Regions from separate parts of the Homo sapiens genome. Here region 1 is linked to region 2. The links come from fine-mapping of genetic effects on plasma protein levels. A gene starts in region 2. The other region holds a variant in brackets. All regions are shown on one strand. Distances are between the middles of the regions.

Evidence for each region. PIP is the posterior inclusion probability: the model's chance that the variant is causal. The UK Biobank Pharma Proteomics Project read protein levels with antibody pairs (Olink). The fine-mapping took linkage between variants from a reference panel, not from the people measured, so its PIPs are less certain.
Region 1: its variant is fine-mapped to the plasma level of the CHI3L1 protein (UK Biobank, PIP above 0.99).

Annotation. Positions count from the first base shown.
Region 1 is chr1:203,194,615-203,205,293 of GRCh38, reverse strand. No RefSeq gene overlaps it. Among named protein-coding and RNA genes, the nearest start is that of CHI3L1, 13 kb to the right of the region's middle. The variant T/C (reference allele first, on the strand shown) is at 5,031.
Region 2 is chr1:203,185,382-203,193,903 of GRCh38, reverse strand. It overlaps CHI3L1 (chitinase 3 like 1), which reads left to right and starts at 7,200. Exons shown (of 10, transcript NM_001276.4): 1 at 7,200-7,305; 2 at 7,559-7,588; 3 at 8,519-8,522. The coding sequence starts at 7,281.

The sequences.
Region 1 (10,679 bases), 10 kb before region 2:
TGACACACGTGTATGCATGTGCACGAGCAGACGCACACACACACCCCACCCTTGTGCAACACGCATGCTTGCAGAGGAAACTTGTCCTTTCTTGGCCAAGCACAGGGGCCTGGAACAATGGGAGGGAGGGTGTCTTACATTGCACTTCACACCAGAGCCTGTCCTTACAGATTCCTCAGGATCTCAGTCTGCACTAGCTGACCCCACAGGCCTTCCCTGCCCTTCCACCTTTCGGGTTCCACATCTGCAGCAACCACTGAGCTTCAGCCAGCCAGCGGTGGAGCCAGATGCCCAGGCTGTGCTCCAGAGCATCCCTGCAGTGACTCAGAGGCCACTGACCTTTGAACACATCCAGACCTCCCCTCCCTGCCAGTGGAGAGATCTCCCAGCACACCAGACCCTAAATGCCTTGAGACAATCTCTTTCTAATCCCTTAATCCAGTGGTGGGAGCCATTTTCTATTAAGGGGCAGTGACCTCAGTGGAAAATCATAATCATACAAGGGCCACATCACTGTATAAAATTACTGAAGTTTGATGTGGCTGCTGCTGTTTCTTTTTAATTAGGAAAGATGTATAAAACATTCAGAACACCTGATTTTTAAAGGAAGACAAAACCATGCAAAATAAACATGATCAATATGTTAGAATATGTTTTCCAAATTGAAGGCAGTTGAGATGGTGTGACTTAAAAGAATGTAAAGGAAAGAAAGAGTGAGAAATTGTGGTAGGAAAAGGAGAAAGACTAGAGAAAAATAAGGAAAACGTGAAGGGCAGGAAAGGGCAGGCCAGTGGAAAGGAGAGGGAAAGAGGGTGATGAGGTTAGGAGCAGCAAGGAGGGCTCGTTAGGCCCAGCTGCTGGGTCATTACTTTCTGCTCCATGCTTCTGGTCAACCCTGATCTTGTAAGGCTGGTTTTCAGATTATTACCTGGATTGTAGGCTACCATTTACACAAAGTCATTTGGTAGATGCTCATTTCTATTATACCATTTCATCTTTGCAAGAACTCTAAAAACTAGGCTTGAGAAAAGTAAGACCTAGAAAAGTTGCCCAAGCTCACACACCATAACAATTGGCCAGGACTCCAATTCATCCGCAGATCAAAGCTTCTGCTGTTGATACTATACCATTTGTATTGTCTACCTTGCCATTATCTTCCTATTGAACTGTTGATTATCTTTGTTCATTGCCCCCTTGATCACCATGAGGCAATGAACAAATGATCCAGCTACTCTTTCCTTCTTTCTGTTTTCTGAACCCATTAAACTCGTCCCATCTCTATTCCCCACCTGCCCTGACCTCAAAACTTGGTCTGATCTATTCTTGCTTCCTGGGCTTGGTTTTCCATGCCCAGATCTTCCCATAGCAGCCCAGCTTACCCTTCAGGTCTCCCCTTAAGCATCACTTCTTCAGAGAGTCCTTTCAACCACCTCCCTGTCACTCTCTCACATCACTCCAAATTGTTTATTATCATGGCACTTACTGCTGCGCGGTGTTTTTTGTTTTGTTTTGTTTTTTGTTTGTTTGTTTGTTTGCTGTTGACTATCCGTCTTTCTGAGCTAGAAGAGAAACTCCATGTGACCAGGACTTTATCAGCCTTGTTTGTTACTATATCTCCGGAATCTAATACTACTTCTGGCAAATAGTAGATGCTTAATATGTGTTTGTTGAATGAACGAGTGAATAAATGAACTGCTCTCTATCCCCTTTATAGACTCTGCTCCTAGCTGTTAGTGGTACTTTTTTGTACAGAACCAACAAATCAATCCCTAGGTTGCATTTCCCATATCAATCAGCTCAAATTCTCCTTCTACAATTCTAATCAAAACTCATCCATTCCACAAGCATGTCCAAGCTCTTGGCTGAGACTGTGGATGAAGATAAATGAGATTTGACTCCAGATTCAAGGCCTGAGCTTCTGGAGTTTATAGAGTCTAGAAGAGAGGGGATAAGGCATGCCCACAAAGTATTATAATTCAAGATTAAATGAGTCATAAACAATTAAAAAAGAACAAATTAAATATGTTCAGAGGAAATTTCCTCTGGTTGGATGATCTGTGGGGACCCTAACGTAAAGAAACAACAGAACTGAGATCGAGTTTTGAATGAGGGTTCAGACCTCACTGCAGTCTCAGGCAGTCAGCCATGAGACTCAGAGCCATGACCTCAGATTGAGGGCCAGGGTGTGTCCAGACTGGACCAGGCACGCGAAGACCCGGGAGGCAGGAGGGGATAAGGATGGAGAGAGGCTGAGGCCAAACGGTCCAGGTTTGTGGACTGCACATAGCCATGGGAGAGAGCGAACTGAGTGGGCACCATGACCCAGGCAGCAATGTAAACCAGCAGCCCAGCCGCTGCACTTGCAGCTGACAGGAGGGAAGGGGGTTCGTGCAGGACCCTCACCCACAAACCCAGGGGGTTAACCAAGTTTCTGTCTAAGAAGTTCAGCAGGGCAGATTTCTCTCCTTTCTTAGTAATGTGAAATGTAAGCTGGTCAACAGGCATGATTTCTCAACAGCAGGAAATGAAGCAACTGTTTTGGAGACAGCATCCCTCCCTGATGGAGGGCAAGGCTTCAGGCTGTGGTCATTTTCCTGTCAAGTTAATCCTAGTTGTAGAAAACACATCTCCTGAGAAGGCTGGCCTGTCAGGGAAGGGGTGGAGACCTGGAGGCCTGGGGTAGGAATGGGAATGAGGAATGAGCAGGGCTCCATGTTGTTACTCATGAGCGGTAGGGGCTCTGCTGGAAGAAGATCGGGCAGTGTGGAGAAACTGGAGGCGGACTAGGAGGTGGGGTGGGAGGCTGGCGGCGAGCGGAAGGGAAGGATGGGCAACAAGCTTCAAGGGGACTTGGAGGTCTCAGGGAAGGATGCCAGACCTGGAATAGTTCCCAGCCTCTGCCTCTTTTCTTTTTTATTTTTCGACAGAATCTTGCTCTGTCGCCCAGGCTGCAGTGCAGTGGCGAAATCTCGGCTCACTGCAATCTCTGCCTCCCAGGTTCAAGCGATTCTCCTGCCTCAGCCTCCCAAGTAGCTGGGATTACAGGCACCGACCACCATACCCAGCTAATTTTTGTATTTTTAATAGAGACGGGGTTTCACCATGTTGGCCAGGATGGTCTTGATCTCTTGATGTCGTGATTTGCCTGCCTTGGCCTCCCAAAGTGCCAGGATTACAGGCATGAGCCACCGCGCCTGGCCCTCTGCAACTTTTCTCTCCATCTTTCTGAGGCCCATGGCCCCTCCCAGACTCAGTCATAGCCCTAGCTTCTGGGACCTGGGACCACAGTCATTTCTTCTAGTTCCTTCTCCTGGGCCCATCTTTACCATATTATATTGTAAGTATTGGCTCAACAACTGCCTTCTACATAGACCCTGGGCCCATTGAGGGCAAGGGCCCTGTCCCCCTCCTCTGCTGGCCCTAGCACCTGGCAGACTGGGGCTGAACCTGCAGGGCCTGTGGATGTCGGGCTGAATGATATAGTTGCCGTTGTACCTTCTGGGTCTCTTCCACCACCTGATCTCTAAATGTCAGGATGCCTCAGGGCTCAGGCATGGGCTTCTGCCCTTCTTGCTCTACGTGAACTCATCCGTTCCCATGGCTTTAAATAGCATCTTGACACCAATGACTGTATCCGCAGCCTAGACCTCTCCTCCAAGCTCCAGATGCATGTATCCACCAGCCCGCTTGCTCTCTCTACCCAGATAAGGCATAAACAGTTCTTTAATATGGCTGAGACAGACCCCCTACTCTAAAACTTATCTCCACCCCATGAATTCCTCACATTAAACAATTAGCACAACCTTGTCCACCTTGCTAAAGGTAGGACCCCCTGGGTGGTTCCTGGTCCCTCTATTCCCTCATCCTTTTACATCCAACTCATCTGTAAGTGTGCGGATGTTCCCTCCAAGGAATGTCCATAGTCCACCCTTCTTTCCACCTCCACGTCCCCAGCCCAGGGCAGGCCACCGCATCTCTTGCCTGGACCTCTTTAACAGCTGCTTATGTTCATGCCTCTTCCACTCTTGCCATACCACAAATCTATTCCCTACAGAGCCACTAGAGTGACTTTCCAAAACATAAACTCTATCCTGGACTACCTGCTTAAACATCCAGTGGTGTCCCATTGCACAGAGGACAAAACCCCTCTGTGGTTTCCACAGGCCCCAGGACACAGACCTGCCTCTCTCCCCGGGGCCTCTTGTCTCTCCCCACATCCCCAAACTACTCTAGCCAGCTGGTCAGCTTGCTTGTGCTTTTCTCTTTTTTTTTTTCCAACACACTAAGCTCTTTCTCACCTCCAGGACTTTGCATATGGTGTTCTCTGCCTGGATCATTTTCTCTCTTCTTGAGGTAGCTGACTCCCTCTCATCCCTCAGATTTCTGCTTAAGATCACCTCCTCGGAGAAGCCTCCCTGACTGTCCTAACTAAAGGAGGTTCCACTCCTCACTCTCCCCACCCTAGCCCAGGACTTGGCACCTAATAGGGGCTCAGTAACTCTTTCCTGAAAGAATGAACACATGCTGCCCTTAGTCCCTGGCAGACTCCTGTGAGCTCTTTAGTTTATCCTTCTAAGCCACCAAAGATTCACTCTCCTTTCCGCTTATTTTTACGTTTTCTCAAAACTTTCCTCATAAACACCATATTGTTGAGTTTCTTTCTCTCCCTAAAATAGCTGCAGAACTGGACAAAGACTGGCTATCTGCTTCCTAGCTGTCCCTTTCAGTTTCAGGGTTTATGTGCTAGTCATTGCAGGGGAGCAGTGGGGAGAATGGAAAATTACCAACAAGGAGAAGTGGCAGAATCCAGGGACTGACCGTGTTCTTACACCCGTGGTCCTCAGTCTATAGTTAGCTTCTGACTTCCTTTCTTGGCAAGATCTATACCAGCTATCTAGGACAGTCCCAGTTTCAACTGTTCTGTCCTATTGTCCCACTGTGTTTCATGAATTTTCTTACAATATTGGCTCTCTCTCTTTTTCCTCCCACTCTCCTTTTATCCCATGAGGGCAGCCTTACTTAAACAACCC[T/C]CGCACTCAGTGTTGAAAGAGCTGAATTCAGTTCAAGTCTTGCTCAACCACATAAAATGTGCACGACTTTGGGCAAAGCACTGATCCTCTCTCAGCTTCCGTTTGCTCACCTACTGAGAGGGATAAGGCCAACACCTCCATTCCAGCATTCGGCAGGGCGGGTTGTGACTGGAATAGCATGTGTTGGGCACTTGGCACCCATAGCAAGTCTCCCTTGCCCCTCAGGATGAATAATGGAGTGAATTAGTCTTTCAGCCAAAAGACTCTGGGCTCCAGAGAGTAATGTAATGCTTTACCCAAACAGTGGAAGTGTGGAAGTGATGTGGATGTTGGGGGACTGTTATATTCTCTCGGTTCAGCTGTGGCCTGAGTGATGAGTCAGGTCATGTCTGTAGATAGAGAGCTCTGTCTCCACAAAGAGGAGGTGCCCAGCTCCAATCCCTGGGGAAAGGTTGTATCTTTATTGGAAACCAGAGCTCAGAAGACTAGCCTTAGGGAGATGGAAGAGGGCCCCGACTTGGGAGCAGGGGTGCATCTTTCAACAGGGGTCCCTAAACAGATGGCGCCCTCCGTATGGAATCAGGAGTCGAGCATAGCTTGAACGTCTGACTGTCCAGGACCCACCTCAAAGCGTGCACTTCCCCTGCCTCACCCTCAAGCCTCCCCTGAGTCTTATCTGAATGCCTTGGCTCAGGCTCTGCTTTTCAGGGGGAGGACTGTGCCACCTCCTGGGCCAGAGTGTTAAGGGGTGACCAGTGCCCCTGAGACCACCTTGGCTACAACCTCTCAAGGGAAATGTGCATCTTGGTGAATCCGAGGGACAGGGTAGGGATCATGCAATCCAGCTGCTTCTTTCTCCCCACCAGGGAGGTCTTCATCCAGTGCCAACCTGGGTAGGTCTGCCTCGAGCATGTTTTTATTGAGGAGCTGGCACTTTCTTTCAAATGTCAGGGGCATTGAAGACCACGCAGGTTTCACCTCCTCCAGGCCCTTGCCTAGCAGGAGAAAGGTCACTTTCAGGCATGTCCTCACACTCCCTGCACTCAGGTTTGCCTTGGGCCATGCCTGGTCAAAGGAAGCCTAGAGACTGGGCTCCAGTACAGGCTCTGTATTTAGCAGCCAAGTGACTTGGAAAGGTCACCTGCTCTCTGCTTCCTCATTGTCAATGGAGAAAACAATCTCTGTATTAGTTTTCTGTGGCCGCTATAACTAATTACCACAAATTATAATGGCTTAAGACAGCACATATTTAATGTCTTACAGTTTTTTGAGGTTACAAGCCTAAAATAAGTTTGATAAAGCTAAAATCAAGATGTCCACAGGGCTGTGTTCCTTCTGGAGTCTCCAGAGCAGAATCTATTTCCCTGCCTTTCTAACCTTCTAGAAGCTGCCCGCATCCCTTGGCTCGTGGCTCCTTCCTTCATCTTCAGAGCACATCACTCCTACCTCTGCTGCCCTTGTCACATCCCCTTTTCTGTGTCTGACCCTCCATCATCCGCTCATAAGGACCTCTGTGATTATATTGGGCCCACCCAGATAATCCAAAATAACCTCCCCAACTAAGACTCTTAACTTAGATACATCTTCAAAGTCTCTTTTGCCATGTGTGGTTACATGTTTCCAGGCTCTGGGGTCTAAGACATGGACATCTTTGGGGAGCCATTATTCTCTCTACCACAGCCTCCTTACCACATAAGCTGTTCTCAAATCGCATCCATCTCCAGGCTTCAGGAAGGACCTTCTCATCTCATCGCAGGCCAAAGGGCCCGGTCGCCTAAGGATGAGGCCTGGTCCCCTAAGTACTCCTAAGGATGGAGAGTCTGAAGATAGCTTTATTTGCCTGTTTTCTTTGAAACAGGGTCTTGCTCTCTCACCCAGGCTGGAGTGCAATGGCAAGATCTCAGCTCACTGCAACCTCTGCCTCCTGGGTTCAAGGGGTTCTTCTGCCTCAGTCTCCCAAATAGCTGGGATTACAGGTGCATGCCACCACACCTGAGTCTTTTTAGTAGAGACGGGGTTTCACCATGTTGGCTAGGCTGGTCTCGAACTCCTGACCTCAGGTGATCTGCCTGCCTTGGCCTCCCAAAATGCTGGGATTATAGGCATGAGCCACCACGCCCAGGCTAGTTGCCTGTTTTAATGTTGAAGGCTCTTAAAGGGAGTTATAACTGCTATCTGACCCATCTCCATTCTGGCAAAAGGGATCCATGTAGCTCTGCTGTATGCGTTTTCCAAATTCAGTGTTTAGTGGGGGAGCCACAGGATCATCTCAACTGCAGAGGGTGGAAATCTCATGGGAGAGCCAGAAATGAAGGTGGGGTTGGAGAAGGAGAACCGGCCTCCTCAGAGCATCTGCTCCGTGCCAGACCCTCACATGCATACCTCACTGAATTCTTACCACAATCCTGTGAGGAGCTGAGGCTCAAGGGGGCTGAGTCATGCTAAAAAGGTCAGCAAGTGGCAGAGCTGAATGGGGGTTGGGGACTTTTTCTGATTCTACCACAGCACCACGTGGGGTTGGGGTCACCTGGGCTCTGGCTTTGTACATTGCCAGTGTTTCTTTTCTCCTGGCATCAAAAACAACTCCAAGGAGAGGATGGTTGTTTATGGTGAACAGGGCTATTTAGAGAGGTTAGAGGTGTACATTTGTAGATGACATTTAGAATGTATGGAGAAGGAGTGTGTGTGTGTGTGTGTGTGTGTGTGTGTTTCACTAACCTCCACTTACTTCTGGATACTGAAGGGAGAGGAGAAGGAGGATCATCCAGTGGATTGGAGTTTAAGATTGTCAACAAGACATCACTAAGAACACCTTTTGCATGCCCTATGGATAAGTGCAAAGCATCCCTCAAAACAGTGGTTTCAAATCACAATCACCATCCAGAGAGATGTGTTAGAGACCTGGGTCCTTGGGTGTGAGAGATCTGTTGAGAGAGTCAGGCCCTTACCCAAGCATGGCTATGGGGAAGTCCAGCAGAAAGAGACACAAACCCTGCCCTCAGGAGGCACCAGATCTGAAAAGAAAAGGAGACGAGAGCCCCTACCTTCAGGGAGATCCTAAAGTGTGTGGCAGATGGAAAAGAGATAGTCCTGCCTTCAGGGAGCTTCCAGTCTGAGAGGTAAGATGAGACACATGGGCACTAAAACACCACCATAGACACAGGTGTTCCCCAAGCTCACAGACCCAGTGGTTGTAAGAACACAGTCAGAGGATAGAGCAATTAGATGTGAGCCTGTGAAAGAGGGAAGGTTCCAGAAGATGAGTCTGGAATAGAAAGAGGAATCACTGAAGTGAGGAGTGGGCACCAGAATGGGGAGTACACTGTGAAGGCAGAAGCAAGCCGGTCAATCCCTGGGATGGGGGACACCCAGATCGGCTTGAGTGGCCATCACTTCTTTAACAAGATGGGCCAAAACCAGGGTCCAGAAAATAAATACACACATGGCTGCTCCAGGCACCTTCAGAGGGGTGAAGACTGCTGGCCCCGACTTCTAGAGTGGTTCCTTACCCTGCTTTCACTCCCAGTCCCCTGCCCATGGGTGTCGTGTGCCAGAAAGCACAGACCCTGGGAGCCACTGCTCCCTTACAGGAGAGGCCGCCTGAACACAGCTGTCCCACATCCAGGCAGAAATGGTGCACAGCGCCACATTCCACCCTGTCTGCTAACCAGGAAACTGATTTCAGGCTGGCTAAGGGGACCCTTGTACATCACTTTTCTATTATCTTCATGTGGCTTCTCCAGAGAGACCAGGTTTTCATGGGCCTATGAGGGACTGTCAACTTCAGTTCAGTTTAGTTTAACAAATGTGTGTTGAGCATTGCTGACACTCTGCCCTGTTTCCAACATGACTAAGCACTTCACATACCATGGCAGGAAAAAAAAACCAACAGGGTCGCCCTGACTGGTTCTGGTCCCCAAAATAAGCCTTGACTATTTCCCAGAAACTTGGCCTTCCTAAGAAAAACCATTTGATCCCTGACTTTTGCTCTGCTGAAGTCTGAGGATACGCTGTGACTCTGATGACCATGTGAGAAAGTTGCTGTTTTCCACCATGAAGAAATGGTACCAATGTAAACACGGTCATCTAGGCCATTTGGGACTTTTTCCTTTAAACATTTGTGCTTTGTATTTGATGAGCCAGTTTTGTTTGAAAGCTTACTCCCTTCCACTCTTTGCAACTGAAAGTTTGTTTACTTCTCTCTCTCTCTTTTTTTTTTTTTTTGTAGCTAACAATAATTTATTGTATATTTCAAAATAGCTAGAAGAGTTGATTTGAAGTGTTCATTATTTTCTTCTCTTTTCTAAATGTATTAGTCTCTGGTCCTCCTTTGACAGCTTATTCCTGGAGTTTCTACAAAGCTATTGGCTGCCTGGCTCCTACCAAGGGAGCAGGCAGACAGGTAGAGCTCACAGTGTACCTTACCCCTTGGATCTGATCTGCAGCCCACCCTCCTCTGGCTCCTCTGAAATGTCTTCTGTGCGACAATAGAGCTAAATTGATTCTTGCCAAGTCTGTTTCTGGTTCTGGTTCTGATGGTGCATGGCCAATTGTGTCCACATTGGTAGCAGCAGGAGTGGAATCTAGGTTTGATGCTGCTATGGCCTGACCATGACATGATTTCTGTCAGGTGCAGCAGACAGGGTTTCTGGAATCTGACTCCCCTCGTAGTATTTTCTGGTGAATGTGTTTGTCCAAGGATTTTGAGATTTCTTGGAGTTTGAGAATACAAGGTTGAAGAAGTTGTTTGGAGTCTCTGTGACTTTTGGAATTCTCTGTGGTATGTGTTTCATGTTGGTGTCAGTAGGTTCTTTTCATTCCAAGCTCAGAGCTTCCTTCCTCAACCCTAAGTTCTGGCTTTTAAAGTTATTATGGTCCAAATAGCTATTGATAGCTACAAAGGTAAAATTCCTATAGCTAAGATAAAAGGAAAATCAGCTTTCATTAATTTCTTTAAATAACTAAATGATGCTGGTTGCAGTGGCTCACGCCTGTAATCCCAGCACTTTAGGAGGCTGAGGCAGGAGGATCGCTTGAGCTCAGGAGTTCAAGACTAGTCTGGGTAACATAGTGAGATCCTCTCTCTACAAAAAAATGTTTTAAAAATTATCCAGGCAGGGGGCTGTGCATCTGTAATCCCAGCCAGTCAGGAGGCTGAGTTGAGAGGATCGCTTGAGCCTGGGAGGTTGAGGGTGCTGTGAACGGTGATTGTGTCACTGCACTCCGGCCAGGCATCAGAATGAGACCCTGTCTCAAAAATTAATTAGGCCAGGCGTGGTGGCTCACTCCTGTAAGCCCAGCACTTTGGGAGGCTGACGTGGGTTGAGCACTTGAGGCCAGGAGGAGTTCAAGACTAGCCTGGCCAACACGGCAAAACCCTGCCTCTAATAAAAATACAAAAAAAAAAAAAAATAGCCAGGTGTGGTGGTGCACACCTATAATCCTGGCTATTCAAGAAGCTGAGGCACAAGAATTGCTTGAGCCTGGGAGGTGGAGGCTGCAGTGAGGCGAGATCACACCACTGAATTCCAGCCTGGGTGACAGAGCAAGACTCTGTCTCAAAATAATAATAATAATAATAATAATAAATTAAATGATTTAAAAATAATGTCTTCAGAAATTTTTATATGAGGTTAAAAGGGAGCATTA
Region 2 (8,522 bases):
CCATTCTCCTCCCTCAGCCTCGCGAGTAGCGGGGACTACAGGCGCCCGCCACCACGCCCGGCTAATTTTTTGTATTTTTAGTAGAGACGGGGTTTCACCGTGTTAGCCAGGATGGTCTTGATCTCCTGACCTCGTGATCCGCCTGTCTCGGCCTCCCAAAGTGCTGGAATTACAGGCTTGAGCCACCGCGCCCGGCCTTAAATAAAGTTTTATTGGAACACAGTCATGCTCCTTGGGTCAGTATTCTCACGGCTGCTTTCCTGCTACAAGGGCCATGTTGAGTAGTTGCATAGAGAGTGAGAGCAGCTGATCAGAAAGCATACAATTTTATAGAAGAAAGTTTGGTCTACCTAACCCAAGACCAACAAAACAAAAATGAATTACCTAGGACTAAGTGAAATAAGTGTTGGTTTCATTATGATCGATATTATATTTTAATTAATATCAGAAAAAAATCTGCTTACTCTATCTCTCATTTTCAATTTAACATATTATACCTACACATACTGGAGTAAGGCACTCTTTTTAAAAAGATTTTAATAATATATTTTATTTGACCCAATATACCCACAATATTAACATTTCAACATGTAGTCAATCTATAAATTATTAATGAGATAGCTAACCTTTTTTTTTTCCAACCTATGTCTTCAAATCCAGTGTTGGTTTTTATACGTACAGCACATGGGCGCACTCCTTAAATGTCACTTAGTCCCACTTGAACTTTCAAATTTCAAAAGGAAAAAAAATCCCATGGGAAATCTTAATATAGATTATAAACTAATATATCATCAGGACAATTTTAAAAGAAGAAAAAAACCCTGCATTTCCTGGCAGGCTAGGAATATTAACAAACATGGCAATCTTAAAGAAAATAGCACTGATATAATACTTCACACATAAAAGCAATTTCTTCCTAGCCCTAAGGGCTTTACAAAGCCTCCGGACAGAAGTTCACTGTACAGCCTGATCAGATTATAATGACCTGTATTGATCGGACTTGTCTACAGAACAGTACTCATAACTCCCGCAGCCCTTGTAACAATCTTGTGTTTAATGTTGGGATGTCTTAGGCCTCAGAAGCAGGCCTTAGACAATAAAAATATACTCTAACCTTTCCCCTTCTCTGGTCATAAAGAAATCCCCTGACCTACCTTGTCGGATTGTAGGTCATAAGACCCCTGTTTCAAAAGAGAGTCTTGCCCAGTTCCCTGAAAGAAGGAATGCTGCATAGAGGCCAATAAGAATCTGAACAGACAGCCCTTGCTGGGTTTCCCTATTGCGTCTATTAGTATTAGACCACACCCTTCTTGTCCAATCACATTTCTACATGGTTGTCAATCATGACTACCCAGTGAAGTCTCCATAAAGGCCCACGATGACTGGGTACAGAGCACTTCCAGGTAGCTGAGCATGTGGAGGTTCCTGGAGAGCGGCACCCCCAAGGAGGGCATGGACGCTCCAAGCCCCTTCCCCATACCTCGCCCTGTGTATCTCAGCATCTGTGTACTTTGTAATATCTTTTATAATGCACCGGTAAATGTGTTTCCCTGAGTTCTGTGAACCTCTCTAACAAATTAAACCTAAAGAGGTGAATGTGGGAACCCCAACTTGAAGCTGGTCAGTCAAAAGTTCCAGAGGCCCAGACTTGTGGTTGATGCCTGAAGGGGCGGCAGTCTTGTAGGAATGAGCCCTCAACCTGTGGGATCTGATGCTCTCTGCAGGCCGAGAGCATCAGAATTGAACTGGAGGACACCCAGCTGGTGTCCATTGCAAATGCTTGCTTGGTGATGGGGAGAGACCCACACATTTGGTGGCAGAAGTCTCCTGTGTTGATGGTGGTCATTGTGTTGAGTGAGAGAACAGAACAAGCACAGTTTATGTTTTCTCCTCTTACCCATGCTTTTACAAGTTCCTTTACTTTTTATGATCAAATATCCTATGTTATACATTTGAGGGGGAAAATTGGAACCAAATTAATATAGCTTATTCACTTCTAGATAGAATGAATGTTTATGATCATGTTATTTATATAGATCCAATGAGAATCTGTCCTTTTTCTTACCAGAAAATAATTGGATACTGACCATGCCAAAATTCCATTTAATTAGGTATGTGTTAAAGAAAAAAATTATCCAATGCCACTTGTTGAAGTATGTAAGGATGTCTTTATCCAAGATCATTATGACAGGTACAGGAACCAGGGCAATGGGGTCTTGCAGTTGGGGGGAGAGATTGGGCTCAACTCTAAATACAGCATGGGCAAGTGGAAATCAGTAGCTAAGGACCAGGGGGTCTGTAGACAGAAGTTACTAAGAGGAAACAGGAGTAAGGGGGATTCTGGCTAAACAGACTTAACAGGATTCTTGCTGCAGACAGGCCAGGGTGGTCAGACATCCCCTGGGGCATGATAAAGGACAAGGAACCTGGTCAGATGTCAAGGTATTCAGATGTTGAGGGTAGGGGGTTCTTGCTAAATTGACTTAGCAGGGCTCTTTGCTAAAACTGGATTTTACAAGGAAGTGCACAGATGGGCCTAGGAGAAGATTCAGAAGCCCGCCTGAAATTTGGCCAAGCAAAGAATTTTTGTTATATGATAAGCCACTATTAAGGAATAAAGACTACATTTTACATGTGGAAATGACACCTATGAAGTCCTCTAGAAAACTCTGGTATGGCTTTAGAACTGATGACATTGCAGCCTTAGAGGTAGTAAAATAAATAAATAAATAAATAAATAAATAAATAAATAAAACCTACATTTCCTGGCAGTCTAGGAATATTAACACATATGGGAATCTTAGAGAAAATGGTGCTGATATAATACTTCACACATAAAAGTAATTTCTTCCCAGCCCTAGGGGCTTTACAAAGCCTCCAGACAGAAGCTCACTGTAAAGCATCACTATCATGTGGCTCTGGTTTCGCTAGCCATACAAAAAGAAAGTATTTATTTCATCAACACCTCCTGTTATGTCAATAGAAATAAATTTTGGTCAAATAAAACAAAATATCAATTTGATGATGCTGCATCAGGAAGTTATTAAGCAACATATACGGTTCAACCCATGCCTCAATGGCAAGGACTTGCCCACAAGGAAGGAAAATCCGTAGACGCAAAGCCCAACTCTTCACTCTACTGGCTTCATTCATGACCAAGTACCACTGCGGGGTGGGGATGGGAATAATTTGCATCTGGAGATAAGCCAAGAATAATAGGTTATCCTGAGTGGTTTAAGACACCAAAATAATAAGCCTTGGCTATTTCCCATAAATTTGGATTCCCAGCTGGGTGTGGTTGCACACGCCATTGATCCCAACACTTTGGGAGGCTGAGGCAGGAGGATGGCTTGAGCCCAGAAGGTCGAAGCTGCAGTGAGCCCAGATCACGCCACTGCACTCCAGCCTGGGTGACAGAGTGAGACTCTGTCTCAAAAAGAAAAAAAATTCCCCGAAAAAAACAATTTCATCCCTGATTTTTGCTATGCTGATAAGTGAAGATGTGTTGTAAAAATGATGCTGATCTCCACCAAACGTGATAACCTTGGGTCATTTTTTTTTCCCCTTCAAATACTTGTTGCATTTTGCATTTGACGAGCCAGCCATTCTGAAATCTGACTCGCTTCCGCTTTTCACAAGCAACTGTTTTCTTCTCTAAGTGTTTCTGCCTCTGAGTCTTCGACAGCTTCTACTGTGCGCCAGCACCACCACCGAGCTGAGGATTTGGAGATGATTTGAATTCCTGCCTGGCAGAAGTCCACCCTCTGGAGGAAGAGACTACTTGTAAAAGAGAGAATTCTCCTCAAGCATTTGGTGGGGCATCAACACCACCTCTGTTTGCTCTGACACGCCATGCAAAATGAAGGAATCCTCAAAACCACTGTGCCCAAGGGGCCAGCCCAGGCTCCCAGGAGCTTGTTTTCTGAATGGTGGTAATGTCCACCCTCTGGCTCCTGATCCAGACTCATCTTGTGCCTCCCTCGAGCTCCCTCCTGCTAATTCCATGCCTCAACCACTCTTGAATTCTTCTGGTTCCTGAACATAACAACCTCTTCCTGCTCCAGGTTTTTGCACAATTTTTTTTGTGTGTAGGGGACGGTGGGCAAGGGGCAGACTAACACCTGCCCTTCCTTCGTAATACATTACTTGCTTTTCTTTGTTTAATGTCCATCTTCTTTGCCAGACTGTATGCTTCATGAGGACAGGGACTGCCTCTCTGTTCCCATTCACCTTTCTGTCTCTACTGTCTACCTCAGTGGAAGGCAACTACTCTAGTACACTTACTTAATAAACATTGGTTGAACACTATCAATGTACTGTGGGGCCTAGAAATGTTTGATTAGGGAAATTAAGTCAGGAAGCTTGTTTTGTGGTTTTATGGCACCTCCTGAGTCAGTTCTTCACAGGGTAACAAAAACTATTGAATGAGATGAAATTTTGAGAACATCAGGGTTTAAACTCATAAGAGTGTGAAGTTATGCACCATTTTGAGATCATTTGTTCATTTATTCAACGAGTACTTTACTGAGCATCTACTATGTCTCAAGCACTGGGGATAGATACAAAGGTGGATAAAATGACCCAGCCGTTGCCTTTACTGAGTTTATAGTCTAGTGAGAGAGGCAAACAAAACATCCACTGCCACACACAACATATAAAATTATAACTGAGTCAGGTGTTAAGGAGAGAGGTACAAAGTGCTCTGACAGCCCTATAGCGGGTTTTCTGTCACCTGGAGACTGCCTTTTCTGCAGACAAGGTGACTCCTGAGCTGCAATCTGAAGGATGAGGAAGAATAAAGCAGTCAAAGAAGAGCAGTGTTAGGCTGCAATTCTCCATCCGCAATTCTCCAACCGCAATTCTCCATGGGTTGCCTGCATTTCCTGCACAGCTTATGTGCAGAGGCACTGGCTTCTTTGTTCTAGGCAATCTTTTTAGTGATGTTTGTACAGCAAACAGCCTTGGAAGATAGAAATAGCGTCCCCCCTCCAGACCAAAAGGCAGATTTGTTTACTGTCCAGTAATAAAGATAATGTCTCCCTTATCTTGGGCTGGCCAAGGTGAGGAAGGCTTACTGCTCATCATGAAAGATTTGAGTTCCTTAAACTAGGGATTCCTCTGCTGTGATGTAACTCATTGCATTCATGGCATCTACCTGGGCTCCTCCAACACTGCCCTTGTGAGACCTGAGGGCTAAGGGGAACTGACCCTAACATGAAGTTCATGCTGCTTGCTGTACCATGGATAATAAAGTCCTTTGTCTCTGACCTAGGAGTCTCGTGTCTTCTGCCAACATCCACGAAACTGTAGTTATGTCATTAATTTGCAAGTAGCATAAAATCTCAGATCTTTCATCGTTATTTACAGGCAAGTGGATGTCATATATAAAGGCCCTGTGGCGGGAGTCAGTAGAGCAAATATAAGGATTTAAAAGAAGACATATAAGCATGAGTGGAATATAGGGAGGGTGGGGGTCATGGCCTGAGATAAGGCTGGGAGGTGGTGAGCCTATGAGACCCTTGGCCAATCCTGCTAACACAGGCCTGGGGGTATCTTGGCCATTTGTTGTTACAAAGCTGCCTTCAGGCAGAGCATGTGGAATTAATAAACTGAGCTTGAGGGAGCATAGGACAACAAGGCTTGGGCCAATCTAAGCCTATGAAATAATTTTTAACAAAGGGAGATAGTGAAAATAGGAGGTGTTTTCTTAACATCCTGTGCTCTGTGATGAAAAATTTTGCATCTGCATGCCACTTCATAATATCACTATTAGAAATTAGAAGTCCTCCTCTCAGTGCCCCAAATGAACCAGAAGAAGCTATCATTGACTGTCATTGCTGTCAATCATCTTGGGTACAAAAGGAGGCAGTCATCTTAAAAAGGAAAAGTGATGCCTCTTTAGTATTCACCGAGCGTGATTCTGGACAAGCCACTTTTTGTCCACCTCTCTTACAATGAAGGGAAGGCACTGGCTGAGTTTTAAAGGAAGAGAAAGGGAGAGAGGGAGAGAAGAGGGAGAGAGCAGAGAGACCTCACCGAGAGAGCTGCAAAACCAGCCTGGAAAAATTAGAGTATTACCTAACATTAGTGAAAAATAAAGGTACTTTCTTGAGAAGCCCTTGGACCCATTCTGCCTCTTGGAGTTCTGAACTTTTCACTCACTGCCTATTAATTAATGTTAAGCCTGCAAAGAATGGAGTTGTCCTGGATATTTGGCCAAAAAAAAAATGTATCCACAAACAGGGACGTAATCAGGCAGGGAGCCTCGTTAAGAAGTTTTGTTCTTGTCCTAGGAGTGATGAGAGATCACTGAAGGATTTAGAGAGGGGCTGTATCATCAGGCTTGGGTTCCAAAGCCTCACTGAGAGAGTTGGGGAGCTGACTGATGTCAGATGCTCGTGCAGCCGCCCCGTAGGGCCTGTATTTCCTCCATGGTGCCTCACTGCAGCACCGAGCTTGCAAAAGATCCTCTCTCTTTATGGGAATTTCAAAACAGAAGCAAAATAGCACCGGGGCTTAAAGCATTCTTGGGAATTTCCCTGTCTTTCCCTCTAAATAATCAGCATGTAAATTGCAAAAAAAAAAAAAAAAAAAAAAAAAAAGACACGGGCCCAAAAGGGAGCGCTCAGTTTCAGGCTCTTTGCTTTCCTTCCTCCCGAGGCTCTCTGGCCCTTACCCAGCCTGAAGACAGAAAGTGTGAGGGGGAGGGTAGGAAGGTAGGTCAAGCAGGGCAATGCTGAGCCTGGGAAGAAAACAACAGCCTTGTTTAGGGCACTGTGGCTTACGTAACTAAATTGTGCCCAGTTTCCACCTGGCCAGGGGCCTGGAGTGAATGCTGAAGATGCAAAGGTAGAGGCTGCCAGAAAAGCCAGGAAATTGCTGGCAAGAAAGGCCAGTGGTGGGGTGCAGGAGTGGGAGGAAGGCTGGGAAATGCGGCTGAGTCACATCTCCAGAAGCCCCCCATCATCACCCTAGTGGCTCTTCTGCTGGCAGGTGCCTCATGAAGACCTGACCCAAAGTTTTCAAAACTCTGCGGTTTCTCAACCCTCCTCTGGTAATCCATAGTACTCCCCCGCCTCCACTTGCCAGCCTCGTGATTCCTTCATTGACACATAGCTCAGTTCCCATAAAAGGGCTGGTTTGCCGCGTCGGGGAGTGGAGTGGGACAGGTATATAAAGGAAGTACAGGGCCTGGGGAAGAGGCCCTGTCTAGGTAGCTGGCACCAGGAGCCGTGGGCAAGGGAAGAGGCCACACCCTGCCCTGCTCTGCTGCAGCCAGAATGGGTGTGAAGGCGTCTCAAACAGGTATCTGGGCTAGCCAAGGTTAATCCATCAGAGTTGTGGGTTTTCAGGCCCAGACAGCCCGCAGAGCCATCTGCCTGCTGGGTGAGGGACTAAGGGAGTGGGCAGAGGGGGAGGAGAAGCAGAGCCAGGGGAGGGACTGAGGCTGCAACCAGGAGGTGGGGGTGGGGGAGGTGGGTCTCAGTTGCTTGGGGGAGGGAGCAGGGCGGAAGGGCAGGATGCACTTGCAGGGGTCTCATCCTGGATTTCTCTTCAGGCTTTGTGGTCCTGGTGCTGCTCCAGTGCTGTGAGTAATCCCTCCACCTCCACTTTTAAGTCCAGAGGCGTGGCGAGGGCACAGGGCAGGTGTGGAGGAGGTCTTAGCTCCAAGGGAACACTTTGCCAGGTTCTTCTGTGCTTCCAATGACTTCGAAATAGTCACGTTTGCTAAACTGGAGTGAGGAGTATATGGATGTTTATTTTGCTATACTCTTTGGTATATGTGAAAATTCTCAAAATAAGAAACTTTAAAAGGTCCTGGTTCAGTGAAGGCTTTGACTAACAGCCCCTGGGAGCCGCTAGTACAGTTGCCCAGTAGCTGCTTGGATGAGTGATGCCCACATTGTTTGCAGCAGGAGAAACAGAATTAGAGGCGAGGAAGGATTTCCTGGTCCATTGTGATATTGTGCCCCAGCCTGGGGGACATGCCGAGGGAGCACAGGACTGCCATTCCGGGTGGGTTACAAGTTAGAGGCACTCTCACCAGGAGGCAGAGAAAGGTGGGCCAGAGTCCCTCATGGATGAAGGACCTCACTGCAGGTCACTAAAGGTGCCAGCCTGAAAGCCAGGGCCATCTGTGACACAGGCTATCTTGGGCCTTCCCCTCCCACAAAGCCACTGCTTCCAGGAAGCCTGCTGTGCTGGCACCAAGTCCCATTTCATCCTTATTCCCCAGCTCCTACCCTTCCCCCACACAGTGCCTGTAGCGTATTCATCCCCTGCATTGGATCTTTTCTAAGCATTTTCAGAATAGGCCTTATTTTCACCAGTCAGGGAACTCCCCAGAGGCAGGGGGACCTGAACCAGCTCCTTTCATTTAAGAATTCTGACTTTGCTCACAATCTGCACCCCACTCCTCCCTACCCAACCCCACACCCCATTGGTGCTCAGCTCTGGGCTCAGCCTGAGGTCTCTTGCCGAATCCTGGCCCGGGCCCCATCCCAGACTTCTCCTTCAGGCTC